Regions from separate parts of the Homo sapiens genome. Here region 2 is linked to region 1. Evidence: fine-mapped expression QTL. A gene starts in region 1. The other region holds a variant in brackets. All regions are shown on one strand. Distances are between the middles of the regions.

What was found. PIP is the estimated chance that this variant, and not a neighbour inherited with it, causes the effect.
Region 2: its variant is the best candidate, but not a certain one, in a credible set for the expression of PLCE1 in subcutaneous fat (TwinsUK, PIP 0.82).

Annotation. Positions count from the first base shown.
Region 1 is chr10:93,991,530-93,996,909 of GRCh38, forward strand. PLCE1 (phospholipase C epsilon 1) reads left to right here and starts at 2,402. Exons shown (of 33, transcript NM_016341.4): 1 at 2,402-2,729. It overlaps LOC105378438 (a long non-coding RNA gene), which reads left to right. Exons shown (of 4, transcript XR_946215.2): 4 at 1,691-2,190. RefSeq lists a silencer at 2,216-2,505.
Region 2 is chr10:94,520,377-94,525,756 of GRCh38, forward strand. TBC1D12 (TBC1 domain family member 12) reads left to right here. Exons shown (of 13, transcript NM_015188.2): 10 at 1,579-1,707; 11 at 1,968-2,077. Among named protein-coding and RNA genes, the nearest start is that of HELLS, 23 kb to the right of the region's middle. The variant C/CAAA (reference allele first, on the strand shown) is at 2,816.

The sequences.
Region 1 (5,380 bases):
TATGTAATGTAATAAGCTCAAAAGACATGTGTGTTTTCTTCTGAAATTTCAAACATAGATGCACTTTACTGAAATAAAGTCTCCACAGGATTGTTTCTTGGGGCTGTTGTTGTTGTCTATGCAGAATGGTCTTGTATAAAGAGATGCATAACTTAGTTTACTGAAGCTGAATTTTCCATGGAAATTATCCAGTGCTTTCCCAATTCTCAGGCGCTTTATCTGACAGTCTTTCTTCCTCTAGATAATGGCTGGCAGCAGCCCACAGAGTGGAGGTTATATGGTGCACTTCTGAAAAAGTCTTGAATGGAGCCATTGTTCCCCTGAGATGGTCTGTGTGTTTCACTGAACAGAGAGCAGGGTGTAAAAAAGGCACCTTGTGTGCAACTGTTGGCGAGGTTGGGGAGTGAATTAAAATCTCCAGAAAGTCTGGGCAGTGCTGTTCAGAGGAGCAATGAACACTCTGGAAGTACTGTTAGCTCAGACATTCCAATGTGGTGAGGCAGCCTCGGGGACACGACTTCCCTCCAATCTCGTTTAGAGAGGGAGCCATGGGGCGAGCAAAGGACACTGATCTGGACCTGCTCTCTTTGCAAAGATTTGAGGAAGGCGCCCCTTTCTAGGGATGGGGCCACAGTGATTATCACACTTGGATAACTTTCCTGCTCAACGGACCTAGATTTGCCTTGCTTACTAATCATGCAATGACTCATTTGGAGGATTCAATGTTAACTGCTTGTGCATCTACCAGTTTGTAGCTATCTATTCCCATGTGCCAAATTAAAAAAAAAAAGTCTTTGGGGGTGCCAGGTGATGGATGAAGTTTGATATTATTTGATCATTAAATGAATTATAAAACCATAATATAATACTGTATATTAAATAAATAGCCTACCTTGTTTATTGTCAGTGATGCTACCTCTTTCCTCAGCCCTTTATTTACTTGTTCAGGATAACATAGCCTCAGGGATTGAGTAAATTACCACTTCTCACTGTCCTAGTGCTAAAATGCCAAGATCTTAAGGAACAAAGAATTTCTTTAGAGCCCTCTGCAGAGACCTTTCTGAAATCAGCTCTCCAGGGAGGCAATCATGTTAGTTTTCATTAAAGTCCTAGTGGTGAGAAAACAGCAAGACAGTTTAAGGACCAGACTGGCAGATTTTTCTTAACAGCAGGATTCTTTGGGCCTCCTGTGCTTTCTTGCTCCAACCTCTCCTGTGTTCTGGAGCCTCCAAGAAGGAGAGATCACTTTTAAGAGGGACCCGAAAGAAAGGGTCAAACATGAGCAGGAGGAAAGTGTGTGGGAGGAGATGCTCCAGGTAGAAGGCTCAGCTTAAGTTCAGGTACAGAGCTAGAGTGGGAGAGACATTCTGTTGGGTGATCCTTATTAGCCAGGGCATGCTGGGTTACACAGCCATGGAGAGTTAGTTTGGAGGGCAATAGGGAGCCAGTGAAGTTTTCTGCATAGATTAAAGTTGTAAAAAAGGAAGAATAATACAGCGGTGGTTTGAAGGATTGATTTGGTCCAAGGGAGAGGACAGTGGGAGGCGATATGGGCCACAGGAATGGGTCCTGATCGGATGTAGGAGAAGAGGTCAGGCCTAGGGAACGGTCTTCCATTAGAACAGGTAGAGGGAGGAGGCACAGGTTTAGGCGAAAGGGAGGAGGATGATGATTTGATTTTTTTTTCCAGGTCCTTGGCTCTCCTAAGACTCATAAAAGCCGCTCCAGCGGCTAAGGAAGTTCTGTGCAAAGCCTGTAGTTTCTAGTTGTGAAGATCTTCAGGTTTGCTTGAGCAATGAAAGAGTACTGGATTTGGAGTCCGCAGTCCTGGATGGCCACCATTACCAGCAAAAGGAGTATTTCCGGAGCCTGGCACAACGCTGGGCACATTGATGGGGCTCAATGAATATGTATTAAATGAACGAGTGACAGAACAGATTCGAGACTTGGTGCTGCCATCTACTACAGAGACCTTGATCGTGTCCTTTATCTGCCGTGAACCTCAGTTTCCATATCTGTCAACCAGGGGTGGTTCCCTGGGGTAGTGTGAGAGTAAATTCCCGCCGCCTGAGGTGTGCAGAGTTCCCGCCCTTCCCGGAGCCGGGCGCCCCAGGAGCGCTCTCTCTGGCTCCCGCCAGAAAGGATGGCTCCTAGGGGTCAGGGCCAGGGGTCTGGGAAGGGGTCGCGCCGCCAGCAGCCAGCTCCGGGGGAGGCGGCCGGGTCCTCGCTCCGCGCCCGCCTTCCCCGCGCGGCAGGAGCCGGGGGCGGGCCCGGCACAGGCCGCTCCCCCGCCCGGCCGCCCGCGGTGGCGCTAGCGGCCTCTCACCCGGGGCGGGCGAGTTCTGGGAAAGCCCGGCCCAGGGCGGGGGCCCCGCTGCCGCCCGCGCAGCCGCCGCTGTCCGGGCAGCGCGCACATCTCGGCGGGAGCGGACTGTGAACGGCGCGGGTCCACACGGTAACGCTGGGCAACGTGGGCAACGCGGCGGGCGGCGGGCTCGCGCGGCGGGAGGGGCAGCGGCGGCGCGCCCGGGCTCTACCTCCCGGGCTCTGCCTCCCGGGCTCTGCCTCTCGGGCACTTGCCTGGCTCCTGCGCGTTCCTGGGCATCGGCTCTGCAGCTGACACACAGTAGCGGGGACACCCGACGCCGCTAGCGACAGGCGCGCGGACGGCTGGTCCCAGAGGGACGCTGCGCTTGGGGACGCCGGCGAGACTCGCCAGGAGCCAAGAGGTGAGGAAGCGACTCTGTAGCTCGGTTCCTGAGGACTGGAGAAAGGGAAGGATGGGCTGGTTCTCTCCCAAGGCAGTCGACCCGCCTAAGGGAGCAGCCCGACTCCGCGTACCTGGCGGAAAAGTGTCCTCGCGCTCCCGGGGGACCCGAGGCGGGCGGTCCTCCAGGGCATGCAGGCCGCCCTCGCAGGGGCTAAAGGACACCCTGCCAGTGCCTTCACTCCAGACGCCTGCCTCAGGTCGCCCCTTCGTGTTGTGAATACGGTGTGGAGGTGGCCAGTGCAAAGAAAAACGTAAGCTCTTTTTGTGGCGGTACTTAGCAGCGGTATTTCAAGGAAAGTGCTCAAGAGATTGTTCCTGGAGAGATTTGTGTACATCAAGTCCTAGAAAATACAATATTGGACCAGGTCCCGCTCTAACTGATAACTAGAATAGCTAGCTTTGCCTTCAAGTCCTTTAATGCTACAGTAATAAATACACTAGAGCAAGAAGTCTTCTGTCGTGGCGAATGTTAGGTGCACAGCGTAAATTTGTGGAAGCTTTCGCCCCTCGCTCTGTATTTAAGCCATCAGACACTGAGTTCAGCCGACTTAACCAATTATTCAGTGTAAGACTCATTTAGTGATTAATCAGTGTCATTTTAAATAGTGAGTTCCCTGAATACCTGTTAAGTAGGATTCACGTCTTCGAAAAGTTTTATTTGCACGAAGGTCATAATTTCAGTTGCATTATGCAAAATTTGCCCGTAGGTCTTTTAGATCTCTGCAGGATTGGTATGTTTTCATGTTTCTTATACCCCCCGTAGAGGTAGGGCAGGGCCGCTGCCACAGAATGGGCACTACTGAGGCCAAGAATGCTTGACCCCACTAGGGAGAATTTTTGAGAGCCTGACTTGGGAGGTGGAAGCAGGTGACCCCATAGGTGCTTGTACAGGTGCCCAGTTGTCATTGAGGAGAGAGGTGGACTATCTCTAGGTTATTGTATGCATCGATGTCTTCATAAATACTTTTCTGAAGAATGTCTGATGGTGTTGTCATCTAGACCATCTGATGGCACATCTTCCCCCACATCCACCACTCTAAAGTCTAACCATCCTTCAAACTGTGTTTTGCTGGTGGTGTGAGGCTTTTCCTGAAACAGCCAACCTCCCCCTGCTCTGATTTCTGCAGCATTTTTTCTCCAGGGCCCTTTCTGCTCTCTACCTTCTGGGAGTTATTTATGTAGATGTCTCATTTTCCCTACTGAAGGCATTTGCTGTGGCTTTCATGGCAAAATGCTTGCACCTAGAAGACTCTAGAGATAATTGTGGGCCAGTATTAAATCTTAAGACTTTGGTTTTACAACATAAATATCTACTTTGGAGAAGGAGATAATATAATTGAAAGGAGCTAGAGGAATGTATAATGTTTACCATTAACACTATCCTTTATTTACAGCCCCATGGGGGAAATTCCCTTTATACCCAGGAGCCATGTCTTACCAGGTAAGAAGCCAGATTGAACTGGAGGGACATTCTTCCAGTCCTCTTAGTAACATAAACTCCTGGGATGTGGTCCAAGTTTGACCTGTCATTAAAAATTCCATACTCCAGTGGGTTAGAAGCTAGATTCCAATGAAGGCGGTTGGTTTTGTTTTTCTATTTACAACCATTCTTAGTCACATTCTTCTCTGGGCTTTTGTTGTATACTTTAAAAAAACTGTTTGATGTGCAATTTGTTACCTGTAACTTTCTAAATGAATAAAAGAAGATTGAAAAAATACTGTGCATGGTGGAAGAGTTTTCTAAAGTAGACAGCAGGGGACGTTTCCCATGCCTGGGCAAGAGGAGGGATTTGCACAGAGTGAGGCTTGCTGCACGTGTGTGTGTGTGTGTGTGCGCGCGCGTGTGTGTTCCACACACCTGGCTGACAGGCGCCTATATAGGACAGTTGCTTTAGTCTTAATGCCTTCTCTCTCTGCCGGAACTACTTCTGCGGTGGAAGAACAATAAAACAGAGCTTCTGGGTTCAGAAGGAGAAGCAGAGGAAAAGCCAAAAACAGTAGAAGCAGCTAAGAGTGTGAATTTGTTTGCTGAAGTTGCTTTCCTCCCAACGTTCAGTTGAGATCTGTGGCATTGAGCAAGTAGGGGTTTGGTTGAGGCGAGGGAAGACAGGTGATTAGGAAACATGGTGCTTCTGGAAGAGGGGTGGAAGGTTCTGATAGGGTTTTAGGGAAGCATGTGATTTAGTTATGTAAGGCCCAAAGAGGAGAGTTGGAGATGGAGGAGTAGGGAATGGAGAAAGAGAGGAAGACGATATCAAAGATGCATTTTGTTATAGGCCAACCATGTGGCCTACAAAGAAGGGCAGAACTCTCTCTAGCATCATGTGTTCCTCTCTGCTCCCTGGATGCAGAATGCAGGGTTTTTACCGAGGCTATAATTCATCTGTGTTATGGCTTAAATAGATTTTCGTGGGCCAGATTGGGAACCAAGCCCTCGGAGGCTACATTGTCCAACATGGTAGTCACTAGCCACATATGGCTATTTACATTTGAATTGAAATTAGTTAAATGAAATTAACCACCCATATTTCAAGTGCTTGATAGCTACATGCAGCTAGTGGCTACTGTATTGGACAGTGCAGATATAGAACATTTTCATCATCTCAGAAA
Region 2 (5,380 bases), 530 kb after region 1:
ACCCCGTCTCTACTAAAAATACAAAATTAGCCGGGGTGGTGGCACATGCCTGTAATCCCAGCTACTCGGGAGGCTGAGGCAGGAGAATCGCTTGAATCCGGGAGGCGGAGGTTGCAGTGAGCTGAGATCACACCATTGCACTCCAGCCTGGGCTAAAAGGGTGAAACTCCATCTCAAAAAAATAAAAAAATAAAAGAAAAGGGAGCTGAGAAAATAGAGATAGTGATTGTAGGCATCCCTTTCAAAACACTTGGCTGGGAACAAGAGACAGAGTTATCATTGCAGGTGTTCTTTTTTTTTTGAGACCGAGTCTCGCTCTGTCACCCAGTCTGGAGTGCAGTGGCGCAATCTTGGCTTACTGCAAGCTCCGCCTCCCAGGTTCACGCCATTCTCCTGCCTCAGCCTCCTGAGTAGCTAGGACTACAGGCACCTGCCACCACGCCCGGTTAATTTTTTGTATTTTTAGTAGAGACAGGGTTTCACCATGTTAGCCAGGCTGGTCTTGAACTCCTGACCTCAGGTGATCCGCCCGCCTCGGCCTCCCAAAGTGTTGGGATTACAGGCGTGAGCCACTGCGCCTGGCCCATTGCAGTTATTCTTAATGGTCTCACTGTGTAAGTCCATTATACAAATCTCTTCTAGAAGTAAGTGATAACTTTTTTTTTTAATTAAACAAATGTATGGGCTGGACAGGCGTGGTGGTACACACCCATAGTCTCAGCTACTCAGGAGGCTGAGGCAGGAGGATAGCTGGAGCTGGGAGGCAGAGGTTGCAGTGAGATGATATGCCACTGCATTCCAGCCTAGGTGACTTGAGTGAGACCCTGCTTCAAAAAAAAGAAACCAAAAAAAAAAAAAAAACAAAAAAAAAACAGGAGAAGAAGTATATGATAGCTGCCAATAACTTACAAGCAAGAAGCAAACATCTATACAGCTTAGCCTTTTACTCAAGGTCTTTCACAACATAAACACATCCTACCTTCTCTAAATGCCTTTCCTTACTCCAGCTGAGCTGGTCCTATTGTTCCCATTTTTGTGTCTTAGTTCATGCTTCTTTTCCATTTTAGGTTTTTTCCTATTTCTGTCTCTTGCTTTTCCAGGACTCCAGGCTCAACCCCCACAACGTCTCCTTTCTTGGTATTTCAGCAGCACTTCTGATAGATCTCTTTTATTCTGAGTCCTTCATTTTTTACTCAGATGTGTTATAACAATGAAAATAATCACCTGATTTTTATTAAATTTTGTGATTCTGTACTCTATTTTGAAAGAATTCAGACTGAGAGGAAATGAAAACTAGGTAATACGCTGAGATAGCCTTTTGTAGCAGTAAAATCTGATACTTTTTTGTTTTTCAAAAATTCTCCCTAATGTTGAAAAACCACACCATATGAACAAGAAATTAGGGAGATTTCGTAATCATTAGGGGCTCTCTGTATTTACCTTTGCTGGGAAGGAAAAAAGAAATCTTGGTTAATTCTACTTTGTAATGTCACTGTAATTTTTCAGGAGTACAATAAAATAAACTATATAGATTTATTATTGTAAGTCCATTTTGACTAAATTTTTCTCCCTTTGAAGGTCCAAGGGATGTCCTTCATTGCAGCAGTACTCATTCTCAATTTGGAAGAGGCAGATGCCTTTATCGCATTTGCCAATCTCCTGAATAAGCCATGCCAGTTGGCCTTTTTTCGTGTGGATCACAGCATGGTATGAATGGATCATGTTTTCCATTGTTTCTGTAGTTTGAATGCCCTCTTAGAGTGAAAAACAATAATTAGAAGGCCAAAACAATCTAATCTAATATAAACTTATCATTATATTATAGTTTATTAATGAATGTTTGCTGAGAAGACTCAGAAAAAGATGAGATTCTTAATGAGCACGATTTCCTGTTAGTGTTTAAGCGTTTAATTTCTTTATTTCTAGACTATATACTTTCATAATTTTATTGATTTTTTAATCTTTAGATGTTGAAATATTTTGCAACATTTGAAGTATTCTTTGAAGAAAATCTTTCCAAATTATTTCTTCACTTCAAATCTTACAGTCTTACACCAGATATATACTTGATAGACTGGTAAGTCATAACATACGTAATATATAATAATGAAAAGGAAATAAAGTATAACTTTTTGTGTGTTTTAGGAACTAGAGTAAATCTCATGTGCAGGATTTTACATATAAAGAGCCTTCTTTTACAAATTTAGAAACTTCCAAATTTTTGTGGGGACGCATTTGATTAAGAGCATGGACTCGGCTGGGTGTGGTGGCTCATGTCTGTAATCCGAGCACTTTGGGAGGCCGAGGTGGGCGGATCACCTGAGGTCAGGAGTTCAAGACCAGCCTGTCCCACATGGCGAAACCCCGTCTCTACTAAATATACAAAAACTTAGTCTTGGCCAGGCACGGTGGCTCATGCCTGTAATCTTAGCACTTTGGTGGGTGGATCACGAGGTCAGGAGTTCGAAACCAGCCTGACTAACATGGTGAAACCCTGTCTCTACTAAAAGTACAAAAATTAGCCAGGTATAGTGGCATGCACCTGTAATCCCAGCTACTTGGGAGGCTGAGGCAGGAGAATCGCTTGAACCCAGGAGGCGGGAGGTTGCAGTGAGCCAAGATTGCGATACTGCACTCCAGCCTGGTGACAGATCGAGACTCCAGCTCAAAAAAAAAAAAAAAAAAAAGAACTTAGCTGGGTGTAGTCGCTGTAGGCTGCAGCAGGACAATTGTTGGAACCTGAGAGGCAGATGTTGCAGTGAACCGAGATCACACCCCAGCACTGCAGCCTGGACAACAGAGCGAAACTCTATCT[C/CAAA]AAAAAAAAAAAAAAAAAAAAAAAAAGAGCATAGACTCTGGGTTGAAATCAGAATCTCTCAGTTTGTGTTTCAGTTTTTTGTCTATAAATTGGGAATAATATTATCTTTATCTTGAGTTGTAGCGAGGGTGTTTTACGTGGATTATCTCATTCAATGCCTAGCACATACTAAGCTCTCAGAGTTAGTTGCTATTTATTTTATTATTAACACACAAGGGCTTATGATAGTTATAATAGTGTTTCTTTACTAAGGGCTTCATATTGTTTCTTTTTATTTCAAGGTTTTATCAAGCTTTTTTTCCCCAAGATGACACCAATTTGAATTTTTTAATTTGATCTCCCTTCTTACATATTGTCTGAAATTTTTTTTAAAAATGTAATAAATGTAAATACGATATACTTTCTCCAAGTTTCACATATGAATAGCTCAGCTTTTTACTGTTCCACACACAATTTTATTTCCTAGATTTTCTCTAGCTTAAAAAAAAAGGCCAAGTGCAGTGGCTGACGCCTGTAGTCCCAGCACTTTGGGAGGCCAAGGCGGGAGGATTGCTGGAGGCCAGGAGTTTGAGACCAGCCTGGGCACCACAGCAAGACCCCATTTCTACAAAAAATAAAAATAAAAAAATTGGCCAGACATAGTCGTGCATTCCTGTAGTCCCAGCTACTCAGGAGGCTGAGGTGGGAGGATTGCTTGAGCACAGGAGTTTAAGGTTACAGTGAGCTATGATTGCACCACTGTCCTCCAGCCTGGGTGACAGAACGAGATCCTATTAAAAAAAAATTATGTATGTTGCCAAATCATGTATACTGCAGACAGGATCACCATTTTATTACTTGTGTTTAAAGTTCAAAGTTTTTTAGACTTTTTGTTTGTCATATTAAGACTAATGATATTAATGGTGTTCCTAATAGGCATACAGCTCTCCTACAACCTGTAATTCAGGCACCAACGTTCCTTCCATTTTTTACTTCCACCGTCTTTAACAAGGCATTTTCAGGGTTTTCACAGAAGGGGAGAGAACAAGGAGACTCACAAGGGGAGATTTTGGGAAGCTAAGCCTAGAGGTATTACGCATCTCCTCCTCTCACATTCCACTGGCCAGGACTCAGTCATGTGGCCACAACTAACTGCAAGTGAAGATGCAAAATGTGGTTTAGCTGTTTGCCCAGAAAGAAAAAGAAATGGTTTGGTAAACAGCCAGTTTCTACCACACATACTTTTTTTCTGTTTAATCAGAACAACCACATAAGATATGTACTGTAAACCAGGGCATGATGGCTCACGCCTGTAATCCCAGTACTTTGGGAGGCCGAGGCAGGCGGATCACGAGGTCAGGAGATCGAGACCATCCTGGCCAACATGGTGAAACCCGATTTCTACTAAAAATAGAAAAATTAGCCAGGCATGGTGGTGCATGCCTGTAGTCCCAGCTACTTGGGAGGCTGAGGTTGGAGAATCCCTTGAACCAGGGAGTTGGAGGTTGCAGTGAGTCGAGATCGCGCCACAGCACTCTAGACAGAGCGAGACTCCATTAAAAAAAAAAAAAAAAAGATATGTACTGTAATTTTTACCACATACTGATGGGGAACCTGAAATTTTGTTTTTTATTTTTTCGTTCATTAAAAAATTTTTTTTTTATTTTTTATTTTTTGAGACAGTCTAGTTCTGTTGCCCGGGTTGGAGTGCAGTGGCGCAATCACAGCTCCTCCCACCTGGAACTCCTGGGCTCAAGCATTCCTCCCACCTCAGCCTCCTGAGTAGTTGGGATTACAGGTATGCGTCACCATGCCTGGATAATTGATACTGAAATTTTGATAGGCTTGAGTACCATACCTAATATTTCACAGTTAATAAATGGCAGAATAGAAACTAAAACCTCAGCAGTCCAGTTCCAGAAACCATATTCTTTATAAAGTTAACTACAACATGACCAACACTGATTTTACTGAAGAGGAATATTTAGGGTTTTTTTAGTTGTAAGAGAGGTGGGATTTTAGAACTGGAAGTAATCCAAATTCATCATTTTAGAGCTGAAGAAATTGAGATGCAGAAGTAGAATGTCATAGTGAAGGTCGAATCATTGCTGTTCAAGTATTATACAATATAAATAAACATTTTTTAAAGAAAATATAATGGCTGGGCATGGTGGCTCATGCCTGTAATCCTAGCACTTTGGGAAGCCGAGGTGGGCAAATCACCTGAGCTCAGGAGTTCCAGACCAGCCTGGCCAACATGGTGAAACCCTGTTTCTACTAAAAATACGCCGGATGTGGTGGCCTGTGCCTGTAGTCCCAGCCACTCGGGAGGCTGAGGCACGAGAATTGCTTGAACCCAGGAGGCCAAGGTTGCAGTAAGTCAGGAGGCTGAGGCACGAGAATCGCTTGAACCCAGGAGGCCAAGGTTGCAGTGAGCCGGGATCACGCCACTGCACTCCAGCCTGGGCTACAGAGCAAGACTCCGTCTCAAAAAAAAAAAAAAAAAAAGCTAAACAAAAAAACCGTAATTGCAACAATGTAACAATGTATATTACATTTTCTAAAAGTTAATTTCTTAAGCTATGT